Linked DNA regions of Homo sapiens: regions 2 and 3 are each linked to region 1. Evidence: fine-mapped expression QTL. A gene starts in region 1. Each other region holds a variant in brackets. All regions are shown on one strand. Distances are between the middles of the regions.

Region 1 (2,758 bases):
AGAGGGTGAGGTCAGTGATTGCAGCCTCCTTGGTACAAACGAGGAAACTGAGGGTCACAGAGTAAGTTGTAAACAGAGCTGGGGGGACCCTCACAGAGCCTCTGGACAAACCTCCGGACAAAGCCACTGATGAAGAAAGTCCCCGAAGGCAGGTAGAGGCTTGCTTAAAGCAACCTAGGACCTTCCAGGGTCCCAGGACCTGGCTGTTTGCCTGACTAGCTTGGGTCTCTGAAACAGAAGTGAGGCCAGGGAGAGTTAGTTATTCTGGGCCTCATGATGACATGTGCCTCCAGAGACCCAAGCCTGGCCTTTTGCCATGGGGTCCCTGGGAGCCTTCTGGCTACCAGCCATGGCACCCTGCCTTCTGATGTCTGGGGAGGGGCTGAGAGAGGGGGAGGGTCACTGCTTCTTAATGGCTTTCTGCCCAGAAAGCCTCTAGAACTGCCTGCTGCTGACTTTCTTTCCTTTCAGGGCATCCAGAGGGTTCAAGTTTAGATTTCAGGCTAAACTTCTGGGCTTAGAGGGTCCTGAGCATGGGACTGGATAAAGGAGGGAAGCCATCATCTCTTCAGAAGATGTTCAGAAAAGGGCATACACCCAGTCTATCTGAGCTGGGAGAGAGCTGCTGTTATGCCCTGGGGCAGGGGGATGGATGAAATGGCATTTGAGGGCTCAGATTCTCTTTGGGGCAAGACCTGACTTCCTATGGACTCCCAGGAGCAGCAGGGGAGTTCTGAGAGGAACTGTGATTGTCCAGAGTGGAGTTTCTTTGAGACTTGCCCTGTACCTAACCCCAAACAGATTTGATACTTAGAGACCTCTAACCCGGCATCTCATTGTACAGCTGGGAAAACTGAGACCCAGGAGGAAGGGGCCTCTCCGAGATGCCACAGTGAGTCAAGAGTCCTCACTTCAGAGGGCTGGAGAATAATCTACTGAGGCAGGGCCAGGGCACCTGTCTGAGAGGGGCTTCTAAGGCTGCAAGCTTTTCCCCTTCCGTGGACTGCATTCACACCTTGTTCGGTCCTGCTGGGGCCGGGGCTCTCCTTCCTTGCCCCTTTTCCTTGGCACTCTTTCCACAGGCCCTGTGTGGTCTGGGCTCTACCGAGAGGTCCCCAAGGAGAGCTGGCGTGTCAGTCAGCCAAGAAGCAAGCAGGCAGGCAATGCCAGCATGCAGGTGGCGGGGCTGGCAGGGGAGCCGGCAGGAGGGCCGGACACCCGGAGCCGGGGAACTGTAATGTTCAGGGAATTTCAATTGGCATTGCTGTCCCGTTCCAGCCAACTGGCTAACGGTGCCGAGTTTGAATCAGTGACCCGCCTCCTGGTCCCTCCTCCTTAGCCGGCCTCTCTCCCTCCCTCCTTTTTTCCCTCCCTCGGTGGCCTTCCAGGAGGCGGGAGGCGCCCGCTGTCGAGGCAGCTGAGCCCCGGCAACCGCTGCTCTCCGCCTCTCCCCTCGCGGGGCCGGCTCATGGAGCGCAGGGACCGGGCTGGCTCTCGCCGAGCCCCGGGCCTCTTTTAGCCTCGTCCCCAGAGAGGGAGGAGCCGGTGCCCGGCACAGCCCCGCCGGCCCTAGAAGCTCCCCACGCGCCACCATGCCTCTGCTGGACGTTTTCTGGTCTTGCTTCAGGAAGGTGAAGGTAAGTGACTGGCCAGCCCCAGCCCATCCCGCTGCTCAGGGGGGAAGGAGGCAGATGTGGACCACTGCGCACCAGCTGGGAAAACGGACCAGACGGGCTTCTGAGACTACCTGAGGCTCTCGGAGTTAGAAAGGCTTGGGTTCAAGTCTCACCTTTGTCACTTAACCAGTTCTGTGACCTTCTGTTGCATTCCCATACAAACAAGTCTGCTAGTTGGCTCTTTTTAATAAAACTCGCCTCTGTTGCTTCCTGGATCTTGCCACAAAGGCAAGATACTTAACCTCTCTGAACCTCAGTTTCCTCTCAGCTTTAGAATGAGGACCATAGTAACACCAACCTTACGGGGTGATGAGGTTGGTGTTATTGTTTACATAGCAAATGTATGCAAATCCAGGAGATAATGTGTGTAAGCTTCCTAGCAGGATGCCTGGTGTGGAGCATCCACACAAACAATGGTATCTATTATTATTATTATTATTAATTTCTATCCATATATATAAAAGCACATACTCTGTGCTAGGCACCACTGGAGCTACACAAAGACAAAAAAGGGCTGGACACAGTGGCTCACGTCTGTAATCCCAGCATTCTGGGAGGCCGAGGTGGGAGGATCACTTGAGGCCAGGGGTTCAAGACCAGCTTAGGCAACATAAGGAGACCCCCATCTCCATTTTTTAAAAGAAGACAAAGAAGGACATGGCTTTTGTCCTCAAAGAGAATATAAGAAAAGTGACAAATATTTACCAGGCACCTACTATATGCCAGACATTGTGCTAAATAGTCAGTTTGTCAGTAAATATTTGTTGAGTGTCTACTATATCCTGGCCATGGGGGATACATGAGCACAGCCGAACCCACAAGTGTGTGTAAAGCATGATTCCACTCTCAAGAACCAAGAAACTAATATTTATTTAGTATCCACTATGTACCAGACCTAGGCACTTTTAATTCATTCATGTGGCAGTGATCCTCAGCACAACCCATTGTTTTCCTGCTTTTATAGATAGGGAAAAGACACTGTGAATAGTTAAGAAATATTTACAAGGTTGCTCAGATATGACTGGCAGAGCTGGGATCTGAGCTCCTAAGTCCATGCCTTTCTTGACGCTGTGTGGTTTCCC
Region 2 (2,758 bases), 52 kb after region 1:
AAGGGTCTGCCGATGCTGGGTATGGGGTGAGGCTGTGTGAATGTGTGTCTGTTTTCAGTACAGCTGTGGGTCCCTCCACACCAGGCTGCAGTGGAAATGGGGACAGCCAACCACATGATTGCTGCTGAGAGGCTGAGGACCTCTGTAAGTGGAGGAGGATGCCTTCCTCCGGGAGCCTGTATCTGGACAAGCAGTGGCACTTGGTAAGGGTCGGGCCAGGACCCAGACCCAGACCCAGACCCAGACCCAGACCCAGACCCAGACCCAATTTAGAAAGCTCCAGACCATATGCAGTTTCCTGCAGTTTCAGTAGGAAGAGAAGGAACCACCCCGTGGGCCTACTACAGAGTTGGGAAACGGCTTCTGGTTCTGCCCCCTCTATAGCTTTCTCTCGGTGAGTGATTTTTGCTTTCTCTGGGCCTCAATTTCCACAACTATAAAGTGGGTAGGGCAGTTGGCAGGCAGACTCAGTGGTCTGTGAGCCTTCCTTTCAGCTATGCAAGTATGCCTCCCCACTCAAGACCCTTTTCTTATCTACCAGGCAATGGTGAGCTGGCTTCAAATTCAATCAGGCCCAGACACTGAATGTTCTCAGCTGGCTGGGTCAGTTGGAGCTGGCCAAGCCCTGAATTGCCACAGCTTGGGTTCTCCTTGTGCTTGGGCATTTCTGCAGTTTGCTCTCTGGCCCCTCCCCAAGCCTGTGTCTGTCCCTAGTGGCCAGCCACTCTCTGACCCATTCAGCCACAAGTTAATGAGTGAACTGCTCCCCCTGGGTCGTACCAGCCCAAGGTGCTCCTGGGATCCTAGGTCCCTGTGGGAAGCAGCCAAGGGCCTAGCCAGCTCCAGTCACCTTTATGCTCTCTCCCACAACCCCTCTAGAGGTAGGTATGCAGGCAGAGCTCAGGGCAGAAGGACCTTTAGAGGGCACTAGGTCCAACTTTCCTTCTGAAGCTTGGGGCTTCCCGACAGGTACTTGTGCAGTTCCTGCTCACTCATGTTCAATACCTGGGAATGTGATATGTTTCAAGCAAGTTGCTTTCGTCTTTGGAATGTGTGAAAGTTTTCTCTTATGTTGAACTTAACTGTGCCTCCCTGAGGCTTCTAACCCTGGGTTCCGAGTGTGCCCTCTGGGACCACCTGGACCCTGTCTGCTCTCTCTGACCTTCAGGGATCTGAGGATGGAACCCAAGTGCACCTGTGTCTTCTCTAGGCCAAACAACCTTCAAGCGTCTGCGCTCCTTCTCAGACCTGGAGCAGCCCCCTTCCCAGCCTCATCACTGTCCTCTGTCCTCCCTACATGCTACTGTTTATGGCCCCCTTAACATGTGGGGGCAGGAAATGGGGCACTGGAAACCCCTCACTCCCCTTAGTTTATTTATAGTCTGAACTTGTTCAGATGACTTTTCCATAATCCTTTTCTGGTTACCACAACAGGTAGACTCCTAACCCCCAGAATCTTGGGTGCAAATACCTTAGACAACACTGATTTGTTTATGGTTCAGGTCCAGCCAGCTCTCACGATTGGAGAGCCCTTGGAAGGTAGGGCCTTCTTATTGGTGCCCCCATAGTGGAGGACAAGCCTGGTGTTAGTAGGTGTTCCCCTTGTTGAGTTAAATACAATGTAATATGTGGGGGGCTTCCAGCGTACCCTGCTTTCCTGCCACTCGGTTTTATCTTTGGAGTTGGTCAGGGGTGGGTGGAGGGAAGGGGATATTTTAGGGAGTACTGAAGCC[G/A]GAAATGAGTATGAGCCATGCCCACAGTGGGGCCTAGAAGAGTGAATCAGACAGTGAGAAATACCAACGTAGCCATTCCTTCCCCTGGCAGTTGATGATGATGACTATGAGTCCTCCCATTTCTTCAGTTGCCAAGGCACTTTCACTTCCATGATTCCATTGTGTTCTTAGAGCAGCCCTGTAAAGTAGATGGTATGATTTCCCCAGAATGATCTGTGGTGGTCTCCACCTGAGGCCCAGGGAAGGGAAGAACAGTCTCCAGTGAGGGAGGATTTGGAGCCCAGGTCTCCTGACCCTCAGCCCTCCCTGTTTTCCCCAAACCACACCCAGCAGCCATGGCAGCCGGGGCTGACTCGGCAGCTTCCCCACCACAGAGGAACCCCTGCCCTGGCTGCAACTCTGTTCCTGTGAGAGAGTGAGCTCCAAGGGACGTGGCCTAGGATTTCCTGTCCTTTATCTGGGCTGGCCAAAGGCTGGCCTGTCTGAGGTGTGAGATAGGCACCTGCAGCCAGCCTTTCTGCTCCAGGCTGAGGTCAAGTCAGGCTGTGGCAGAGGCAGTGAGCTTGTGGGAAGAGCTTGTCCCCAAACATCTGTCCTGAGCAGTGCCCACACCAGCAGGGCCTTCTAAATGGGAAAAACAGAGAGGGGAATGTGGAAAAGGGGTCAGAGTGGAGCAGAAGTAAAATACGTCCTGAGCTGTACACAAGCTCTCATGTTCACAGTGCTGGGAGACTTTGGGCAAATTACTTAACTTCTCTGAGCCTTCATTTTGTCAGCTCTAAAATGGAGATATGTACCCACCTCATGGAGTTGTTGAATATTAAATCCAACAATATAAATAAAATTATTGCCATTATTGTTGCTTGGTAGTACCTTCTGCAGTCCTGTCATTTGGTTGTTTTTCACTGACCTGGGGGTGGGCAGTTCTCAAACCTGCCACCTCGTGGGCATTCGGTCTGGACTTTGCAGTCATTTCAGAGTCCACCTTACCCAGAAAAGCTCCCTTTGGCCATGCCCACCCACAG
Region 3 (2,758 bases), 37 kb after region 1:
ATTTCTAAAGCTAGATCTTTGCCACAGAGTGTGGCAGAGGACTCCTGTGTGAAATGCTAGTGCTGTATCCACCAGCTCAACAGGTGCTAGGCCCAAGAGACTGCCACCAGCCAGGAAACAGTCAGTTGCCAAATCTGAACGCTGGACCAGCCCTGTGCATGGCTCAGCCCCAGGATTAGCATCGATATAGGGAAAGGGGCAGCAGGGAGCCCCCTTGTCACTGCCCTCAAGGAGCTGATCTTCTAATTGGAATAAGGCCTGCTTCTGCCAATAATCAAATCAATCATCCTGGTGGGAAGTGGTGGAGGTAGGTAGGTAAGAGAAACTCCATGTGGCCTGAGAGGCAGTATGTACAGTGGTTACTAGCTAAAGCTGACAGTCCAAACTGTATGACCTTGGGCAAATTATTTAACCTCTCTATGCTACAGTTTTCCCATTGAAAATGGTAGCAATAATAATTCAGCTTATCATAGAGTTATATATGATGATTAAATCATATATAGAAAGTGCTTAGAATGCTGGCTCACATGACAAACACTCCATAAACCTTAGCTATTCTCAGTGACTAAGGGCCTATCTTTTACTGAACCAGGTGCCTGCTACCCCTGGGGTACAAGGCCATGGCCTGGAGGCATATGAAGGTATTAGACCGGTATGTCTCCTCTTCCTGGAGTGTACATTTTCCTCAAAGGCTTAAGGAAGGAAAAGATGAATTTTAATAAGAAAACAAGGATGCATACTAGAGTTAACTGAAAATTCAAGTGGATGTTTAAGATAAAAGCTGGACTTCAAAGACATTCCCACTTGGAGCCAACACTTCAGGTTTACATCATCAGCCCCCCAAGGTTTCATCACATTCTTCCCTCTCAGCCCTTAGGGGTACTTGAATACAAAAGTTACAGTAAAACAAACACTTGTGAATTCAAGTAACTCTCAAGGGGGTCCAATCATTCTCTGGGGGTAAGGATGATTACCACCGTTATATATGGGTGAAGATGGAGGCTCGAGGTCCCAATCCTGCCACTGCCACTTATGAGCAATTTGGATTACCTTTGCTGCTTCTGAGTTTCTCCAACTGTAAACTGGGGTAATGATGATGATATATATACTTCAGAGCATTGTGGTAAGAATTAAATAAGCACTTAGAACAATGTCTGGTATAGCTTGTGCTCAATCCACATCAGCTTTTATTAGATCCATTCTTGCATCTCCTCTCACAGCACCATTGTCAGCTATGTGTCATATTATGTCCATTATCTGGAGGAGAAACTTGAAGCTGTGGAGGTTCAGTAAGGTGCCCCCTCTCCTCCTCTTTGCTAACAGCAGGCATTCCTGCCTGGAGTGGGGAGGTGGTGGGAATAAATAACCTCGAAGGTCCTTCCCAGCAACAGGGCTCTGTGACTCAAGTGAATCTTCGGAGCTCTTTCATATCACTGTTCTGGCTGGAGCTGAAGCAGCAGAACTCAGGAAATAGGGGTGGGACTGGACAGGGCGGGAGATGCCTTAGCAGGGTGGGAAGTGACTGCTGCCGCCCTTCCTTCTAGGCCGCTGCCACTGCCGGGGGCTATGTCCCACACTCCCGCCCAACCGGAGAGCAAAAGGGAAACT[C/T]CTCTGCTTGGAGGAAGCTGACTGAGGCCTCCTTTTCCGCGGGCGGCGTGGGGGAGGGGGCTGCCCCTGTGAGAGGCGCAGTGCAGGGACTACTCGAAACTCAGGAGTCAACGGGGTGGCAGCAGAAAGCTGGGCCCAGAGAGGGGCATCCCAGTGGCTGTTTGTCCTGCCTGGGCTAGTCCAGAATGGGGACTGCTGATAGGCCAGAGGGTGCTGGGAGAGACGGGCTTCCCATTGATTTATGGTCATTTGAAGGGAAAAGGAAAATAATTCCATGAAGTAGAAATGGCCTAGTGGAAGGAGGAGCAGAGTCAGATCTGCCTTGGTTCTGAAACAAACTCACTGTGTGACCTTGGACAAGTCCTCTTCCCCACATGAAGAATGCATTCATTCAGTTAGTAAATATTTTGTGAACACCTGCTATGTGCCACCATTGCCCTGGGGAAAAGGGATGCATGGCATGAAGATCAACATGTTAACCTCTAATTTCCTTCTAGCTCTGACACTGAGTTCATGAAAAGTGGGTGCAAATATCATGCAAATAAGCACATATCAACTGGAAACTGCACTTCCTTTTTCTAGCTTATCCCTCACAAATGGAGTAGCTTAGCTCTAGATTCCAGGAACAAGGTATGGAGACAGTAGGGGGGAGGGGCTGTGACCTTCACCCATGTACCCCTTTATCGTTCACAAAGCACATTCATTATTCCCATCGTGTCATAGGAATATTACCCTCATTTTACAGATGAGGAAACTGAGTCTCAGAGAGGAGAAATCACCCAGGTTATGCCACAGTTAGAGCAGAGGCCCTATTAGGATGTTGGTCCCTTTACTGGCCACCAACAGAAGTAGAATGGAAATGACCTGGTCTGAGAGCTGTTGGTAACTTTTGGCCTTATCTCCATTGAAAACAAATTTAACCAGGACCCCCCACCATCCCCAAGTCAGGTAATGCAAGTTTGCTTGCGGTGGTGGGGATTGCGTATTAGAAAAAACGGTTATGTACCTTAGAGTCCTAGTCCAGGCTTTTTTTGTGGTACACGCCAGGGGCTAAACTCTTTGAAAATAAAAGCTAATCTTTCTTAATGAAGTCTATACTCCGTGCCAGGCACCATGATCAGTCCTTCAGATCCTTACAACAGTCCTGCAA

Which allele goes with the higher level. Positions count from the first base shown, and alleles are read on the strand shown. Sizes are in standard deviations (SD) of each study's normalised expression. Not every link is listed here.
With allele A in place of G in region 2, the expression in fibroblasts of the gene that starts at base 1,376 in region 1 is lower (moderate effect, 0.60 SD a copy in GTEx).

The links. PIP is the estimated chance that this variant, and not a neighbour inherited with it, causes the effect.
Region 2: its variant is fine-mapped to the expression of STARD8 in fibroblasts (GTEx, PIP above 0.99). The same link has a PIP of 0.9 or more in T cells, blood mononuclear cells, monocytes and whole blood.
Region 3: its variant is fine-mapped to the expression of STARD8 in whole blood (TOPMed, PIP above 0.99). The same link has a PIP of 0.9 or more in blood mononuclear cells.

What each region holds. Positions count from the first base shown.
Region 1 is chrX:68,646,291-68,649,048 of GRCh38, forward strand. It overlaps STARD8 (StAR related lipid transfer domain containing 8), which reads left to right and starts at 1,376. Exons shown (of 15, transcript NM_001142503.3): 1 at 1,376-1,637. The coding sequence starts at 1,593.
Region 2 is chrX:68,698,369-68,701,126 of GRCh38, forward strand. The region is part of intron 2 of STARD8 (StAR related lipid transfer domain containing 8); the gene reads left to right. Among named protein-coding and RNA genes, the nearest start is that of STARD8, 52 kb to the left of the region's middle. The variant G/A (reference allele first, on the strand shown) is at 1,734.
Region 3 is chrX:68,682,905-68,685,662 of GRCh38, forward strand. All of the region lies in intron 2 of STARD8 (StAR related lipid transfer domain containing 8), which reads left to right. Among named protein-coding and RNA genes, the nearest start is that of STARD8, 37 kb to the left of the region's middle. The variant C/T (reference allele first, on the strand shown) is at 1,609.